Linked DNA regions of Homo sapiens. The protein of the gene in region 2 purifies or fractionates together with the protein of the main gene of each other region. This does not show direct contact. Each region holds a gene or a part of one and is shown on either strand. Other genes may lie near its edges.

The links.
Region 1: the proteins of RASAL2 (region 2) and TESK2 purify together in Homo sapiens (affinity purification with mass spectrometry, with the first as the bait; one large-scale study listed by BioGRID). This does not show direct contact.
Region 3: the proteins of RASAL2 (region 2) and FAM110B purify together in Homo sapiens (affinity purification with mass spectrometry, with the first as the bait; one large-scale study listed by BioGRID). This does not show direct contact.
Region 4: the proteins of RASAL2 (region 2) and KIF1C purify together in Homo sapiens (affinity purification with mass spectrometry, with the first as the bait; one large-scale study listed by BioGRID). This does not show direct contact.

What each region holds. Positions count from the first base shown.
Region 1 is NC_000001.11:45,345,496-45,348,793, forward strand, and holds part of TESK2 (dual specificity testis-specific protein kinase 2), read right to left. Parts: intron 2,506-3,298; coding exon 2,423-2,505; intron 2,199-2,422; coding exon 2,114-2,198; intron 1,568-2,113; coding exon 1,484-1,567; intron 1,285-1,483; coding exon 1,198-1,284; intron 500-1,197; coding exon 382-499; intron 64-381; coding exon 1-63. UniProt on the Homo sapiens protein: Dual specificity protein kinase activity catalyzing autophosphorylation and phosphorylation of exogenous substrates on both serine/threonine and tyrosine residues. Phosphorylates cofilin at 'Ser-3'. May play an important role in spermatogenesis.
Region 2 is NC_000001.11:178,092,319-178,097,475, reverse strand, and holds the start of RASAL2 (ras GTPase-activating protein nGAP), read right to left. Parts: upstream 3,373-5,157; 5' UTR 2,984-3,372; coding exon 2,782-2,983; intron 1-2,781. UniProt on the Homo sapiens protein: Inhibitory regulator of the Ras-cyclic AMP pathway.
Region 3 is NC_000008.11:58,000,635-58,005,042, reverse strand, and holds part of FAM110B (protein FAM110B), read right to left. Parts: intron 1-4,408. UniProt on the Homo sapiens protein: May be involved in tumor progression.
Region 4 is NC_000017.11:5,021,344-5,025,727, reverse strand, and holds part of KIF1C (kinesin-like protein KIF1C), read right to left. Parts: intron 3,637-4,384; coding exon 3,019-3,636; intron 2,261-3,018; coding exon 1,577-2,260; 3' UTR 1-1,576. UniProt on the Homo sapiens protein: Motor required for the retrograde transport of Golgi vesicles to the endoplasmic reticulum. Has a microtubule plus end-directed motility.

The DNA.
Region 1 (3,298 bases), about 130 Mb from region 2:
TGTGGGGGATCTTGTCATCCAGTGAGCTTAGTCGCTTCACCCCAGGTGCTTTCTCCAAGAGTCCTGAAGAATAATCAAGTCTGGGTTACTCTCACTAGTCATAACAAATACAAGCAGCATTTTACCACAGAATGTTTTCACTCATGAAAGCAAAGCTGATACCATGGCCCTGTTTTACCAATGAAGAAACAGACTCAGAGAGGGGAAGCAGTATGCCAAGCCACAGCTCTTAAAAAGGCCAGTACTTTCTGCATCATCTCCTTCCCCTCCCATTTGTTTCTGGACCTGGGATCCTGGCAATCACAACCCTAAGAGGAGAAGGCCCCACATCCGAATTTCCTCCCTTAGGGTTAGGTTGGGCTCCCTGGTCTAATCTCTTACCCCTGGCTGTGGGCTGCAGCTTCCTATCCCTCTCCTGCTCTTCTTCCTGTAGGCGGCTCAGAATTTCCTCCAGGGTCTTCCCAATCTCCACAAAAGATGGGCGCAGTTTGGGATCCATCTGTAGGTATCCACAACAGCCATGAGCTCTGCCCTCCATCTCCCACCCCAAAGATGGCATTTGAGTCTATTTCTGGCATCTTTGAAGATTCAGATGTGCAGCTGAGAGACCTTTTCTAAAGGCCCCAGACAATGAAGGTGATCCCTACAGTTCAGGTCAGGGAAAACACTACTGTCTACTACCCTCCCTGTCTTAGTGTTTGTCTTATCACCTTGTCACAGAACCTTCCAAAAGTATGCTCATATTAGTTTATTCTGTTCTTGAGTTCTGCTCCTAATGTGTTTCTGGGAGGTATCTGAACAAAGCCCACCTACCCCTTGATCCTAACAGGTAAGGTCCAGCCCCAGAGCTACATACATGAAGGCCAAGAAGAGCCTTTCTCATATGCCTCAGGACCAGTTGGATCCACAGTCCAACAATAAAACCGGACCAGAGTTCCATCAACACCTAACGCAAGGAGTGATGGGTCTACCCTACAGGTTGAGGACCAGATAATACAAAACAACTTCTTTCTTTCCTTTGTCCAGAGCTCTGAATAGGTTAGCTGCCAGAGGGAGGAGGAGGAGGTGTGGTTGCTGTCACTACAGTGAAAATGAGGTCCCTCATGAAGCTAATTAGCAGCCTCTCTGTACAGTCCTAACCAGGTGAAAAGGGTTCAGCCAGCCCCTGATGAAAGGCAGAGGGAGAAAGACACTCACGTTACAGCAGTTGAAAGTAAGTTGCAGAAAATCTGGGGGACAGTCTCCCACCATGTGCTGGAAAGCATCATAGTCCAGCCCGAAATTCTGTGGATGGGTATGGAAAGCATAGGTAGACAGTTCATTAATCCCCCCACCCATCCTAGCCTGCTCAGTAGAAGTGGTTGGGAGCTGCCCCTGACAACCAGCAACAGAGAGTTCCAGCAAGTCCATCCCAGGGACAGAACAGTTCCATTGCTTCAAACTAGCCCCATCAGTGGCAATGATCCCCATGCTTGCAGCTCACCTCTGTGCGGGGAAGATAGTCCGGATCGGCCTGGATGCGGGCGATGATCTCGCAGAGGATGATACCATAAGAGAACACATCTGCCTGGTGGGTAGTCGGACTTTGGTTTCCCTCTTAATGGGTTGAGGGGTAGGGTATCTGCCCCTGCCCCTGCCTCCCCTGCACCCCACCATCTAACAGCCCAGGCCTGGGCCATATTGCCCATACTTCATCCCAGTCAGTCACTGGGCAGCTGCCAGGTACCACCACTGCTCTTGGTAGGAACATCTTGGACACTCTGCTAAGAGTGGATTCTAGGGAGAATCAGCCGAGCGCGATGGCTCATGCCTGTAATCCCAGCACTTCAAGAGGCCGAGGTGGGCAGATCACTTCAGGTCAGGAGTCTGAGACCAGCCTGGCCAATATGGTGAAACCCTGTCTCTACTAAAAATAAAAAAATTAGCTGGGCGTGGTGGTGCATGCCTGTAATTCCAGCTACTTGGGAAGCTGAGGCAGGAGAATAGCTTGAACTCGGGAGGCAGTAAGCCGAGATCGTGCCACTGCATTCCAGCCTGAGCAACATAGTGAGACCATCTCAAAAAAAAGAAAAAGAAAAAAGGAGAATCAGGCCTTGAGATCCTCCAAACTTACCTTTTCATTATAGGGCTCATCTCGGAGAACCTCAGGTGCCATCCAGAATGGGGAACCCACCACGGCCAGCTTCTCACTCCCCATGCTGTGGGGTGAGATTATACAGAAAATGAGCTTGCCAATGGCTGGTGCAATGGAATCTTTTGACCATTCCTCCACCTCAAGGATGGGTACAGACGAGGACTAAACAAATTTAGGGAGCTGAGGTTGAGCTGTGACCAAGTCCTGGCCTCTGGGGAGGAGGCTAGAATTTTCCCTTAGCTTCAGCCCCCTGTCCCTTGGACCCCAGCATCCAGTAGGGCTACACACCTGACATCGGGGATCTTCTCAGCCAGGCCAAAGTCAGCTACCACTGCAGAGTAACCATTCTCATCCCTCTTTATCAGGCAGTTCTAGGGTTCCCAGGAAGGAAGAGAAAATAATGTGGCTCAGAAGCGGGGATCAGCCATAGAGTTACCACCCATTCCCCCCTTCCTATCACAGGGCACCTTGTCCTCTGCTCCTTGGTGAACCGCACTCAAGCTGACCCCACTGGTCAGGTCAGGGGCTCTAAGACAGCCAGGTGAGATGAGTTAGTCCTGGGTCTTGGGTGGCTGTCCTAGGATACACTTCACATTCCAAACACAATTACTCATCTTTGCTTTCTAAGTGCTAGGCATAATTTTAAGTGCTAGAAATAGCTAGATGAAAACAACCAAAACCCTTGTCCTCTTGGAGCTTGCAATATAGGGGAGAACAACAGACTATCAGGCCCCTGGCCTCCCTTCCTCCTTCCTCAGAAACACAGACCCAAAGCCCAGGCCTGACCTTGCCAACTTGATATAAGCACAAGACAAGTGTCTAAGCCTTCACTAACCTTCACTGTCCACAAGATCACAACCAACCTCTTCTCTGGCATTAAAAGTCTATGATCTGGCTTTATCCAACTGGCCTAGCCGCTGTCCCCCTGTTCCTGGTGCCCCTATGCACATATCCTCATCCAAACTTGTCACAGACAAGCTTGACTTACCAAACCTGAACAGGTCCTTCAAGCCTTTGCCTTTGCTTACATTGTTCCCTTTCATTTGAAATATTCTCCCAATTATCCTTTTCACCTAAGAAAATTTTGTATTTTAAGGCAAGCTACCTTTTTAGCCATGACCTCATCTTTCTCCCTCTCATCTCAACTCTTAGCTCCTCCTCTAT
Region 2 (5,157 bases):
TCACTGACCTTTTGATAAAACTGCTCCCCAGAATTCCCTGACAATCATGATTTAAATGCATTAAGTTAAGGGCTTGGTTAATGCCTGGCCCCAAGAGCCAGGATAAAGATTATAGGCCAACCTGCAGGTAAAATAATGGGCCAAGCCACAGAATCAGACAACTTTAAAGCTAAAAGGGACCACAGATACCAATTACTCCAGATTCCACTTTTATGCTGAAACCTAGAGGCCATGAGTTAAAACTACCTGCCCAGAATTAGACAACCAACTTGTGGCAAAGCCAGAATGAAACCAATACTCTAAGCTTCTAGTTGTATCCTCTAGACTAGGTTCCCAATTTGTAGATTTCCCTGAAACATGTTAGACTACACTCATCAAAGTCTCTTTAAATTGTGAGAAGAACCTAGGTGATCCAAGACAACGAAGGTTTTGAACACACAGACAAGAAACAAGAAAAACAAAAATTCTGTATTCTCCAAATTGTTTTTCTACATTCTATTACTTTTATTTCAAAGTTTTTACTTCAAAGTTTTCAAACATACACCCTGTTCATACAATAGGCAACTTAAAACTAGCTAAGGACATAGCCAAGAGTCATTCCAATAGTTCTGAAATATTTACATAAACTAAAGACAACAAAATAGTATCCAGGATGAGCTGCCTCAGAGGAAGGAAAGTAGCAATACTAAACAATAAATAAAAACAACTTCTGGTTAATTGATAGAGAAAACAAAAAAAGTTACAATGCAGTGGTAAGTCTGCAATTGGTCACAAAAATGCAAGGCATGGTATGTATATGTGTGTGTCACACACATATACATACCATGCATTTCTGTGATGTCTGATATGAAGTCTTGACATCAATTGAACCACGCAGAAAGAAAACTTCTAAGTCGTGGTCACTCTTGAACAATAAACATATATCCTGTTCAGAAGGACGAAAGAAAAAAAACATAATGTAAACTTGCTCTCACTCTCTCTCTCTCTTACACACACACACACACACACACAAAATATACAATATATATTTCACAAATCAACCCCTAGGAATGGACTACAAAACAACATACATTTGTAGACTTTTATGTCCTTACAAATGAAGAACGATAGTTAACACTAGGTCCAGAGAACCCAGATTGTTTTGGATACTGAAATACCGAATTATCATATACATGTATTCTTAGAATAGCATGGCCCTATTTCTAACATCACACAAATAAACAGTATGCCAAAGAAGTGTGTAAGGAGAGAAAGATGATAGAATGGGAAAACGTTGTAACTACAATATACTCTAATTCATATGCACTTTCAGATTCTCACCAACCTTTGTTCTAAATGACCAGCTAAGTGGGATTTAGCAGGCAGACGGAAAATCAGGCACCAAAGTTTTTAATCTAATTTGCTGAGAACAAACTGGGTGACCTTGCATCGTCTCCCACTCCTTTGCTTTAAATCTTCCGGTACGTAGAGTAACATCAAGAAACAGCCAGCAAAATACAAAGTGGTACACAAATCCTTAAGAACTGGTTATAAGAAGAATTCCTGGATTTTTATGATTAAAAGGGTCACTAGTGATGATTTAATCCAATCCACTCACTTTACAGATGAGGAATCACAAGCCAAAAATGTGACTCGATCTGCCCCAAATCCCATAGCCATTTAGTGGTAGAACTGAGACAAGAACTGAGATCTCTGGACTCCTAGTTCTATGATCTTTGCGATGGACATTAAGTCTTCAAATCAACTGAACTACACAGAAAAAAACCTAAGTCTTGGTCACTCTTGAATAGTAAGCATATACCCTGTTCAGAAAGATGAAAGAAAAAAACATAAGGTACTTGATCACTACAGGCTTAGATGCACAAGACTGCAGGATAACATCTTAACATTGTGTTTGATCCCAGGTGCTTCAAATTTGCCATCTTATACTCAGCCACGTTACTAATGTCTTCTGCAGTCACGTGAGCTAGGCGATAAACATCTTGCCGTTTCAATATTTTGGAAAGCCACAGCTCAGTCCTGAATGCCAGGCTATAAATCCTTAAGCTATGAGTTTTCAAAACCAGCATGGTTTTAGTGCTGCCACAAGGCTCACCCTAATAGAATCTCATCATTCAGTTTTAATTAAAGAGGTGGTTACCAGGAATGCAGAAAGGGAAAGTTTTAGTGTGTTCATCACTTTTAACCTGCTGAGTGGCAACCCAGTCACTTTACAACGAGATTCAGAAACAATAGTGTAATCTGAAACAATCCACACCCGTTGGAATAAGTGGTTGCTTTTAGAGAGAGTGAGGTTCAGGCAGAGGTTATAGATTAGTCTTGCTCCCACCAAATACATAGTTTGCATTTTTTTCATTCATTAGCTTATCCTCTGCTTTTTCATAATATCTTGGTTTCCAGTCTTGCCTCATTCAACAATAAAAAGAGACGAAAATCCATTCACTTGGTTTCATGGAGTTTTTCCATCATACCTTCTTGAAGATTGATTGCCTGGCTGTTCCCTTGAAGTAATCGCCTAAGAATTACGTCTTGGATAGCCCAACTCCCGCATTAAACTTACTGCAGGTGTCTGAAGAGGTCCAAAGACCATACTGAGTGACATCCCTGCCCAAGTGATAGTCTGAAGAAACTTGTCAGAAATGCACCCCCAGAACAAAAAGGGATGTGGGAAACTGACCTAGCACGGATGAGGACTGGGAATGAGCCTGTGACTTAGGGAATGAATTTCAGCCCAAGCAAAAATAGGAAACACCAGCCTCTAAGACGGCCTGTGGTCCTTACCGTACACCCGGACCCAGCTCTGTTGCTGGCACACGGACTCCAGAAGGATCCGATCCAACATGCCACCGGCGACGGCTCCACTGACTGGGACAACCGCGTCCAGGTCCTCCGGGGGCAGCGGCGAGTCGGACTCCAGCGCCGGGAACATCTCCGGCCAGGACAGCGCCTCCGCGGCTCCTCCGGACGACGGAGAGAGCTCCATGGTGCCCCGAGGCGGGAGGGGGACGAGGCGGCGGCTTCGGGGCGGGCTGGCGCGCGGCTCCGCGCCCTGCCTGCGGTAAGGGGAGGAGGAGAGCGCGCAGCGAGGGCAGGGACCCGAGCGGCAGCCGGCGCGGACACCTCTCACCTCCTTCCCCGTCGCCCACTGCCCGAGGCTCGGGCGATGCAGCCCACCTGCAGTCGGCGGGCGGGACCCAGGCCGGGAGGAGGATCCAGCGTGGCCCCGACCAAGGGTGGGTCCGGGCTCAGGTGTGTGTGGGTCCCTCCCGGGAGAGGACGCAGAAGAACCCGGGAGGGGAGGCTCGCCCTCCCACCTCCTCGGAGCCGCCTTCTTCAGCCCCGCCGGCGTCTCTCGCGGTCAGACCAGGCTCTGGCTGGGGATGGAGCGGGGCCGGGCAGGGCTGGGCTTGGGGGCGTCGCCGCCAGGGGCCGCCCCCTCTGACCGGCTCCCGCCGCCGCCGCCTCAGAAGCTCCGAGTGCCCGTTCCCTCAGCCTGAGGAGGGGTAGGGGGCGGTGGCCCCGGGTTCTAGCCCGCCTGTCCTCGGCCCCCACTTCTGGAATGAGCCTGCCCGCCCCCTGACTCTCAGGCCACAGCTCCGGCCACAGCTCTGGCTCCTGCTCCGCGGCGGATCCCACAAACCCGGCAGCCACGGCGGTGGCGGTGGCGGTGGCGGTGGCGGTGGCGGCGGCGGCGGCGGCGGCAGCGGCAGGCGGCATCCCAGGGTGATAGGCTGAAGCAATCGAGGGCCGAGAGCCCGGCCGCGTGTGCACTCGAGTAACGAAGCCGGGGAGGGACTGCGCCGCAGGCAGGAAAAGTCGGACACCGAATTATTCATCCGGCCTGTCCCGCCTACTTTCCAAGTACCCTCCCAGGGATAGCCGGGTATTGAGCGGTCCGGGTCTCTGCTGCTCAAAGTAAAGACCGTTTGAGAAGGCGGGGAGGTAAAAGGGTGCGGGAAATTTAAACAGAAAAGAAAGGAGCTTCCCTTCCTTCTCACACCTTTCCTATTTATTTGTTTCTTTCTTTCTTTATGGGCCAACGTTTCTTTCTTATTGGACAAAGAGATCGAAGAAGCTGCTTTATCTTACAGTCACCCAAGGGGGAGCGCCTTCTTCCTTCCCAGAGTGGAGTGGCAGTGGGTCCGGGATTCTGGGATATGCACAGGGTCTGCGCCCTGCGCCCTGTCCGCGCTGAAGCTGAACTTGTCATTGGTTTGCAACAGCATGGTGAAGAAGTGTGGTGTGGATGGACGGACGGGCCTCTCAGGCACATGAAATACTCAAAGCCCAGTATTAACCAAACATGTTTCTCTGTTTTGTCTTTGATCTTTGTGCAGTGTGTTGGCTTTTTTCCTTTAATGATGTCACTTGTATTTTATTTTTGGTTTATTTGTAGACTGTCTCCCTCCTTGGCCATGGCTTTACTTTTATGTCCACCCAAGGAGAGTTTCACCAGTTTAGGTTTAAGAAATTACTGACAAGTTAACAATAATAATTTCAAAATTGAACAGTAATAACTTAAACCGTGCCTTGGACATAGTAGATCTCCAACAGTTTTTCTTGAATGTGGCTACCTAATGTGGAACAAGATTTTTCATAATTACATGTTGCTATTTTTAATACCTTTTGGGAGGTTCTTTAGTCCCCCCCGCCCTTTCTCCCTACGTTGCACAAAGAGACTGGTCTACAAGGGGTCCTGTTAGTTTTCTGGTTTTGTGGGGTCCTGGAATATTGTTTGGGCTTATTGAGAGTTAACAAGGATGTATTTTGTGAGTTTCTCCAAAGTCTTATTTAGAGTAATAGTATTTCAAAGCAAGAAGTGTTTTAGAGAGAACATCATTCTGCCTCTTGTTTAACAGGTGAGGAAACTGAGGAAAAACCAGCTTACCTGGCTAATCAACCACAAGTACAGATAGTTCCACAATGACTCAATGGATATTACTTCAACTTTGTTCCCTCAAGAAACTTTTGTGATTAAGCTTGTTGATTTGTGGCTTGATGGTTTACAGGAATGGTCATTTTTAATATCTAGGACCCTGCTTGCTTGCTTGCTTGCTTGCTTACTAGACTGGCTGCATAGTCAGTCTTCCACGTGTAAACAACAGTGTGTGCTTTAGTGGATAAGAGATGTTGAGTGCTGAGATTTCAAGGCTCAGC
Region 3 (4,408 bases), on a different chromosome or scaffold from region 2:
CTTTAGCCAAACAGTGAACCAAGTTGGGCATGCAAAGGAAAGTTCTTGAAGAAAACTTAAACTGCTACTCCAGCTAACTCACAAAGGATGAGAAAGCAAAACAGCCTTATCGCTTCTCGGGAGACAGTTTTAGTGGTCTGGATAAAAAATTAAACCAGCCACAATATTCCCGTAAGTCAAGGCCCAATCCAGAGCAAGGCCTTAACTCTCTTCAATGAAGGCTGAGAGAGATGACAGAGCTGCAAAGGAATAATTGAAAGCTAGCAGACGTTGGTTCATGAGGTTTGTTTGTTTGTTTGAGATGGGGTTTTGCTCTGTCGCCCAGGCTGGAGTGCAGTGGTGCGATCTCAGCTCACTGCAATCTCCGCTTCCCGGGCTCAAGCAATTCTCCTGCCTCAGCCTCCCATGTAGCTGGGACTACAGGCACGCACAACCAGGCCTGGCTAATTTTTGCATCTTTAGTAGAGACAGGGTTTCGCCATGTTGGCCAGGCTGGTCTTGAACTCCTGACCTCAAGTGATCCACCCACCTTGGCCTCCCAAAGTGCTGGGATTACAGGTATGAGCCAGTGTGCCCGGCAGTTCATGAGATTTAAGGAAAGAAGCCATCTCCATAACATAGAAGTGCAAGGTGAAGCAGCAAGTGCTGATGTAGAAGCTGCACAAGTTATCTAGAATATGGAGCTAAGATCATTGATGAAGATGGCTACAACTAGACAACAGGTTTTCAGTGTAGACAAAATGGCCTTATATTGGAAGAAGATGTCATCTAGGACAGGGGACCCCAATCCCTGGGTTTAGGAACTAGGCTGCACAGCAAGAGGTGAGTGGCAGGCAAGCAATCCATCTTCTGTCAGATCAGTGGAGGCATTAGATTCTCAAAGGAGCACGAACCTTATTGTGAACTGTGCATGCAAGGGATCTGGGTTGCGTGCTTCTTAGGAGAATCTAATGAAAAATGTAATGAGCTTGAATCATCATGAAACCATCCCCCTCCCCCACCCCATCCCCCAGTCCGTGGAAAAACTGTCTTCCACAAAACTGGTCCCTGGTGCCAAAAATGTTGGGGACTGCTGGTCAAAACTTTCATAGCTAGAGGGAGAAGTCAATGTCTGGCTTCAAAGCTTCAAAAGACAGGCTGACTCTCTCATTAGAAGCTAATGCAGTTGGTAACTTGAAGTTGAAGCCAATGCTGACTTACCATTCTGAATGTCCCAGGGCTCTTAAGAATGATACTAAGTCTACTCTCTCAGTGCTCTACACAACAAAGCCTGGATGACAGCACATCTGTTTACAGTATGATCTACTGAATATTTTAAGACCATTGTTGAGACCCACTGCTCAGGAAAAAGATTCCTTTCAAAATATTACTGCTCAATTACAATGCCCCTGGTCACCCAAAAGCTCTGATAGAGATGTACAAAGACATAAATGTTGTTTTCATGCCTGCTAACACAACATTCATTCTGCAGCACATGGATCAATGAGTAATTTCAACTTTCAAGTCTTATTACTTAAGGAATACCCTTTGTAAGGCTATAGCTGCCATAGATACTGATTGCTCTGATGTATCCAGGAAAAGTGGAAAAGTAAATCAAAAACCTTCTGGAAAGGATTCACCATTCTAAATACCATTAAGAACGGTCATGATTCATGGGAGGAGATCAAAATATTAACATTAACAGGAGTTTGGAAGAAGTTGATCCCAACTCTCATAGATGACTTTGAGAGGTTCAAGACTCCCATGGAGGAGTAATTGCAGATCCGGTGGAAATAGCAAGAGAACTAGAGTTACAAGCGGAGCCTGAAGATGTGACTGAATTGCTGCAATCTCATGATAAAACTAACAGATGAGGAGTTGCTTATTATGGATGAAAAAATAAAGACTCATTTCTTGAGATGGAATCTACTCCTGCTGAAGATGCTCTAAACACTGTTGAAAGGACAACAAACAATTTAGAATATTACATAACTTAGTTGATAAAACAGTGGCAGGGTTTGAGAAGACTGACTACAATTTTGAAAGTTCTACTATGGGGAAAGTGCTATCAAACAGCAACACATGCTCTAGAGAAATCTTTGGTGAAAGGAAGAGTCAGTTGATGCAGCAAACTTCATTACTGTCTTATTTTAAGAAACTGCCACAGCTACCCAAACATGCAGTAACTGCCACCCTGATCAGTCACCAGCCATCAACACTAAGGCAAGAACCTCCAGCAGCAGAAAGAGTATGACTTGCTGAAGGCTCAGATGATCATCAGCATTTTTTAGCAATAAAGTATTTTAATTAAGGTATGTACATTGTTTTCTTAGACAATGCTATTGCACACTTAATAGACTACAGTATAGTTTAAGCATAATTTTTATATGCACCCAGAAACCAAAAAATTCAAGTGACTCACTTTATTGTAATACTCACTTTATGGTGGTGGTCTGGAATCAAACCCACAATTTGTCTCCAAGGTATGCCAGTAGATACTGTCTTCATTGTGGATGAACTTACTGTCTTACAGAAGATACACTCACAAAACCAAGAATACACCAAAAATGCTGCCATCAATTGGTTCAATAAAGGAAGTGTTGGTCAGGAAGGAAAAAGTATGATGTTGCTAGCACTACTGAGAAAGACTTTGTAGAGAAGCAGGACTTAGAGAAGTGGTACCTGGTGTTAACACTCTTGGAGTCAGCTCATTTAAACCAACTTGGGAAGTATACTTTTACAAAAATGTTTTAACAAAACCTGACTCTGATTGTATTACAGATATGTGATTGTTAATTTTATGTGTCTACTTGATTGGTCTACTGGGGTGCCCAGATATCTTGTTAAACATTATTTCTGGCTGTACCTGTGGGTGTTTCTGGAGGAAATCAGCATTGAATTGATGGACTGAGTAAAGGAAAAGGCCCTCCCCAATGTGGGTGGGCATTATCCAACCAGTAGAAGGCCCAAATGGAACAAAAAGGTGAAGAAAGATTGAATTCTCTCTGTCTCTCTCTCTGTCTCTCTCTTTCTCTCTCTCTCTCTCTAGCTGCTTAGCTAATACATCTATATTTTCCTGACCTTATACTAGAACTTATACCATTGGTTCTCCTGGGTCTCCATCTTGGAGACAGCAGATCATGGGACTTCTCAGCCTCCATAATCATGTAAGACAATTCCTTGTAATAAATCTCTTTTTTTCTATGTATATTCTATTGGTTCTGGTTCTCTGGTTCTCTCACTAATACAAGGTATATGTGAATAATTAATACCATCTGGTAAAATGAAAAGTCCAAAGAAAATGAAGATACTTAAGTATCTCTGGCACAAAACGTATAAAGGTATTTGCTAATATGCCGGTATGCTTAATTAAAGGGCCCTGCGATTTGGTCCCTTTATGGATAACTCACAGTACCTAAACAGCAGCATGCTTCACACTGAAATTACTCAGAAAAAGGCTGGTAGAGATAACAACCAGGGATGAACAATCAAAACAGTTCGATCTTGTAACGCTAGTGAATCCTGGAATGAAAAATACCTGTAAGAAAAATCAAACAAGCAAATCAGGCCACATGAGTTAAAACACATGTCACATTGAGGCAAGGGCAGAGCCACTTCTAACTGGAAAAACAGGAAATGCTATGTGTATACTGAACACTAGGCCCCTTTCTCACACACACACACACACCTGCACACACTAGCTCCATGACAAGTGTGGCACTTTCACTGCTTCCATGGAAAATTCATTTGAAGTCAATTTCCAAATAATACAGGCAGACCACAGATATTCTCTGGCACTACCTAAAAGAACATTTCAACTACCCACAAAATATATATTTATATGACTGTACTACTCTCCACCAATAAGAGAGGAACATACAGATTCACTAAGAAGAACTAGAAAAAAAAATCTTCATTAAATTAAGGAACTAAGTTACTAGGCAGGCAGTCTATCCCCGCAAAAACTGTGGCCACTTTACCAAAACATTATAAAACGGTTTATGGTTACACACCCGGGTGCATGTTGCAGGTTGGAACAAAGCCAACAGAAGCTGTGAAGAGCACCCATGACTAGTCATATTAACAACCCACACAATGATTTCTCTTCTTCTATCATTGTCACTAAACAAGAATAAAATGTATTGGGGGGAAAAAATCTGATTTTAAAATCACAACATTCCAATAAATGATCATTTGAAAGGACACTGGCTAGGGATAGATTAAAGGAATTTTTTTTAAATCCCCAACTCACAGTCAACTGTACAATGAACCTCCCAACTCTCACCTTGTTTTAACTATGTGGTAAAAACACACAAGCGTAATCAGGATTCACTGGTATTTCCCAAAATTGCTGAATGCCCAATTTCCAAATGTCTCTTTTTGACCAAGAGTAGAAATGGTGGCCCCCGTGGTAGCCAGAGAAAGTAAA
Region 4 (4,384 bases), on a different chromosome or scaffold from region 2:
CTGCCTCAGCCTCCTGAGTAGCTGGGACTACAGGCCCCCGCCACCATGCCCGGCTAATTTTTTTATTTTTATTTTTAGTAGAGATGGGGTTTCACCATGATAGCCAGGATGGTCTCGATCTCCTGACCTCGTGATCCACCTGCCTCGGCCTCCCAGTGCTGGCATTACAGGCGTGAACCACTGCGCCTGGCCAACAAACAGTCTTAACACAAATAAAATAACGACTGGGAACAATGATGTAGCCTGCCAGAAGGCAGGTAACACAACCAGGATGAAAACAATCAGGTAAGCGCAGTATGCTTGCCCAACCCATTCACTATCAAGAGAAACTGGCTGCTTGGGAGACCTTTCAAGTAAGTTAGGTGACTTAAAGCAGAACTCCTCTGTACCCCACAAATCCTTCTGTATCTGTCAGCAACAGCCAGTTAAGCATTGACAGGCTGGCGGTCCCTCTACCTCCCCTCGCATCCCCGCTTCTGTGCTTTGTCCATAACAGACAGTGGTGCTGCTGGCACAGACTGAGACACTGGGTAAGCAAACATGAAAGCAGGGGAGGCCGGGCGCGGTGGCTCACACCTGTAATCCCACCACTTTGGGAGGCCAAGGTGGGCGGATCACTTGAGGTCATCAGGAGTTCGAGACCAGCCTGGCCAATATGGTGAAACCTCGTCACTACAAAAAAAACAGTAATGAGCCGGGCGTGGTGGCACATGCCTGTAATCCCAGCTACTCAGGAGGCGGAGGCTGCAGTGAGCCAAGACTGTACCTCCAGCCTGGGCAACAAAGCAAGACCCTGTCTCCCAAAAAAAAAAAGCGGGGAAAAGATCGGGCTGCGCACCCTGAAGGAAGAGACAGGAGGGTGAAGTTCAGGAAGACAAGATGGAAACATTCTTATATCCAGATCTGGGTGGTGCCTGCACAGAGCACACATACAATACTTCACTGATAAGTATGCTTAAGACCTGTGCCATTGCCTTATATAACCTACACCTCCATGAAAACCCAAAACAAACAGGCCACAAGCTCCCTGTTTGCTATCCTTTATTAAAGGGCCCACATCCTCATGGGACTCCAGCCAAACCAGTCAGGTCCCCCAAATATAGCAGGAGGCCTGGAAGGGGAGGGGAATGACTTATGATCCTACCATGCCTCCCAAGAAACAGAAACCACCACAGACAGACAGACAGACGGACAGGGGCTGGGGAGAACTTGCCTCACTCTCAGTCCTCTCCCACTTTCCCCCACTTGAAAAGAAAGTCAAACACTGGCTACGCAGCACCCCAGCCCCCCACCCCACCCATAGCAGCGTTTGTGGGACACACCCCCTTTGCAAGGGGTGGCCCCGAGGCAGCTTCCTATCTCTCTCTTCACTTTGGTTTGCTCCTGGCAACTCCGTGCCCTCTTCCTTTCCTCAGCCTCCGGCTCGGTCTCCCCCTTGTCTTCTATCACCTACTCGGACCTTCTCTCTCATCTCCTGGGCCTCCCTGCCCCAGCACTTCTGGGGAAGCAGCGTCTCGGGCGTCTTCCCTTCTCCTAGCAAGGGGCCCCACCAGGCCCTCTGCCCAGGATGTGGGACTCACACAGCTGCCCCACTCTCCTTGAGGTCAGGGGCAGAACGCTGCCGTCTCATTCGTGGGGGAGTAGTGTATGGGGGGTAGCGGGGCCCTGGGGGCCGCTGGGCTGGGTAGGGTTGGGGTGGCTGGGGATAAGAGTTGTGCTTTTTGGGCTGGAAGTGCTGGGGTTCAGGCTGTGCAGAACCCGCTCCCCGGGATCGGCCCCCTCCATCCAGGGAGTTCCTGCGGGGATGGTGGGACCTTCGGGGACTCGGAGGCCGGCGGGCAGGGGTGGCTGGATGGGGAGTGACCTCCTCAGGGGGTTGGAGCGGAGTTGGAGCCTCCCCGCTCCCCATCCCTGGCCAAGACTCCCGGTGCTGGGGGTTGCTCTTGAAGGGGAAGCGTAGCTTGCAGTCGTGAGGGGGCACAAAGCGGGCTGGGGGCCTGCGCAGCCCCCCGCCCCGGCCCCCAGAGCCCTGCAGTCCCTGCAGCCGTAGCTGCTCCTGCTTGAGCCAGCGAAGACGACCACGACGGAAGGCAGGGTCCTCCTCCATGAGCCGTGACACCCGCTCCCAGCTTGACAGTGGTGGCGAGGGGGGCCGGGCTGACGGCATGCGGTCACTGGGGGCTGCCTCCTCTGCTGCCTCTGATCCTTCAGGCGGGGCCCAGGGGACCTCACCACCTTCTTCATTCTCATCCTCATGATCCTGGGAGGGAGGAGTGAGAAAAGGAGAAGGGATGTGAGGAGAGCTGAATCCTCAGGACATGTGGATTCAAGAGGGACCTGGAGTGGCTGGATGTCAAAGGGTCCAGAGAAAAGCCTAGAGATAAGGAAGCTCGAAAAATAGTGGTTTAGGGCCGGGCGCAGTGGCTCACGCCTGTAATCGCAGCACTTTGGGAAGCTGAGGTGGGCGGATCACAAGGTCAAGAGATCAAGACCATCCTGGCCAACATGGTGAAACCCCGTCTCTACTAAAATACAAAAAAAAAAAATTAGCCGGGTGTGGTGGTGCGCGCCTGTAGTCCCAGCTACTCAGGAGGCTGAGGCAGGAGAATGGCTTGAACCTGGGAGGCGGAAGTTGCAGTGAGCCGAGATTGTGCCACTGCACTCCAGACTGGCAACAGAGCAAGACTTCACCTCAGAAACAAAACAAAACTGCAAACTTTATATCAGTGGGTCTTAGACTTCACTGTATTTCAGAAACACCCAGAGCTTATTATAAATGCAGATTTGTCCCCAAAGATGTGGATTCAGTAGGTCTGGGGTGGAACCCGGGAATCTATTTTAATTAGCAGCCTGGTGACAGCGAGGCATGTGGTTCGTAAACAATATTGAAAAAAACGTACTATACTTCAATGCAATTTTTTCCAGACTTGGGGAAGGTTAGGCTCTGAGATGGAAGGTTCAGACTCCTAAAGTGAAGAGCCGAGGGAGGAGAGAAGGGAGGCAGAAGGCCAGTCCTACCTGGGCCAGGGGGATGACCCTCTCCATGCGGAGCATGCGGTCCCGCAGGGCCTGCAGCTCCCGGTCCTTGCTGCTGTTCTGCAGCTTCACCTCCTGCAGAATCCCCGTCAGCTTGTCGATGTGGGCCCGGAGGTCCTCCACCTCCGCCCCTCGGGCTCCCTCCTCACTGCCACCACCACTGCCAGCTCCACCTCCTTCCTCCTCGCCTACAGTGTCCCAGACATCCCGGGCCACAGCCCTCCAGGCGTCTCCGGGGCCGTCTGGCTTGCCATAGGTGCGACACAGCTCCCGCATCTTGAGGGCGGCCAGGGCCTCAATCTCAGCCCGCCCGTGGCGGAAGTCAGCCAGGGCCACCTCGTAGCAGATCTCCTTCACCGCCTGCATCTTCAGGTCAGCCATGGTGGCCCAGCGGGGGTCTTTGCCCTGCAGCCTGCGTCGCTGGGGGATCTGATAAACCCTGCGAGGGGCCCTGCGCTTGCCACTGCTGGGCAGACCACAGCGTTTGACAATGGTCTGGACCGTGGTGGGCGGCAGCTGCTCCCGCAAGGAGGAGATGAGCCTCCAGCTCTCTTCACAAGAGCGCTTGTCAGAGTCATCCCCGCTGTCCGAGTCTGCATACTGGGGCCAGAGAAAGAAAGAGGAAGAGAGGGCTAAGGACATCCAGAGCCCATGTGTCTTGGCCCAGTGTGTCCTAAGTACACTGGAAACACGCCCATCAGGGAGCCTGGGTTCAAGTCCTGCTCCACCCCAACAGCGCACCCTTGGGCAGACTGCTTAACGCTGCTCTTCTAGACAACAGAGATAGTGACGGGATCTACCTCCCAGATCCACGTGGAGTACTTAGAACCATGGCCGGCACCGAGAAAGTTACCATAAGTATTAGTTGTAGCTAATCGAGTGTGGAACTTTGTGCAAGACTTAAAAGACCATTGAGGGGTGGTGGCTCGTGCCTGCAATCCCAGCATGTTGGAAGGCCAAGGCAGGAGGATCACTTGAGCCCAGGAGCTGAAGACCAGCCTGGGTAATGTAGTGAGACCCCCACCTCTACAAAAAATAAAAAATGTAGCCAGGCATGGAAGTGCACACCTGTGATCCCAGCTACTCAGGAGGTTGAGGTGGAAGGACTGCTTGAACCCAAGGAGTTCGAGGCTGCAGTGAGCTATGATCAGGCCACTGCACTCCAGCCAGGGTGACAGAGCAAGATCCTGCCTCAAAAACAAAATAGAAAGTCCATGGCCGGGTGCGGTGGCTCATGCCTGTAATCCCAGCATTTTGGGAGGCTGAGGCAGGCGGATCACCTGAGGTCAGGAGTTCGAGACCAGCCTGGCCAACATGGTGAAACCCTGTCTCTACTAAAAATACAATA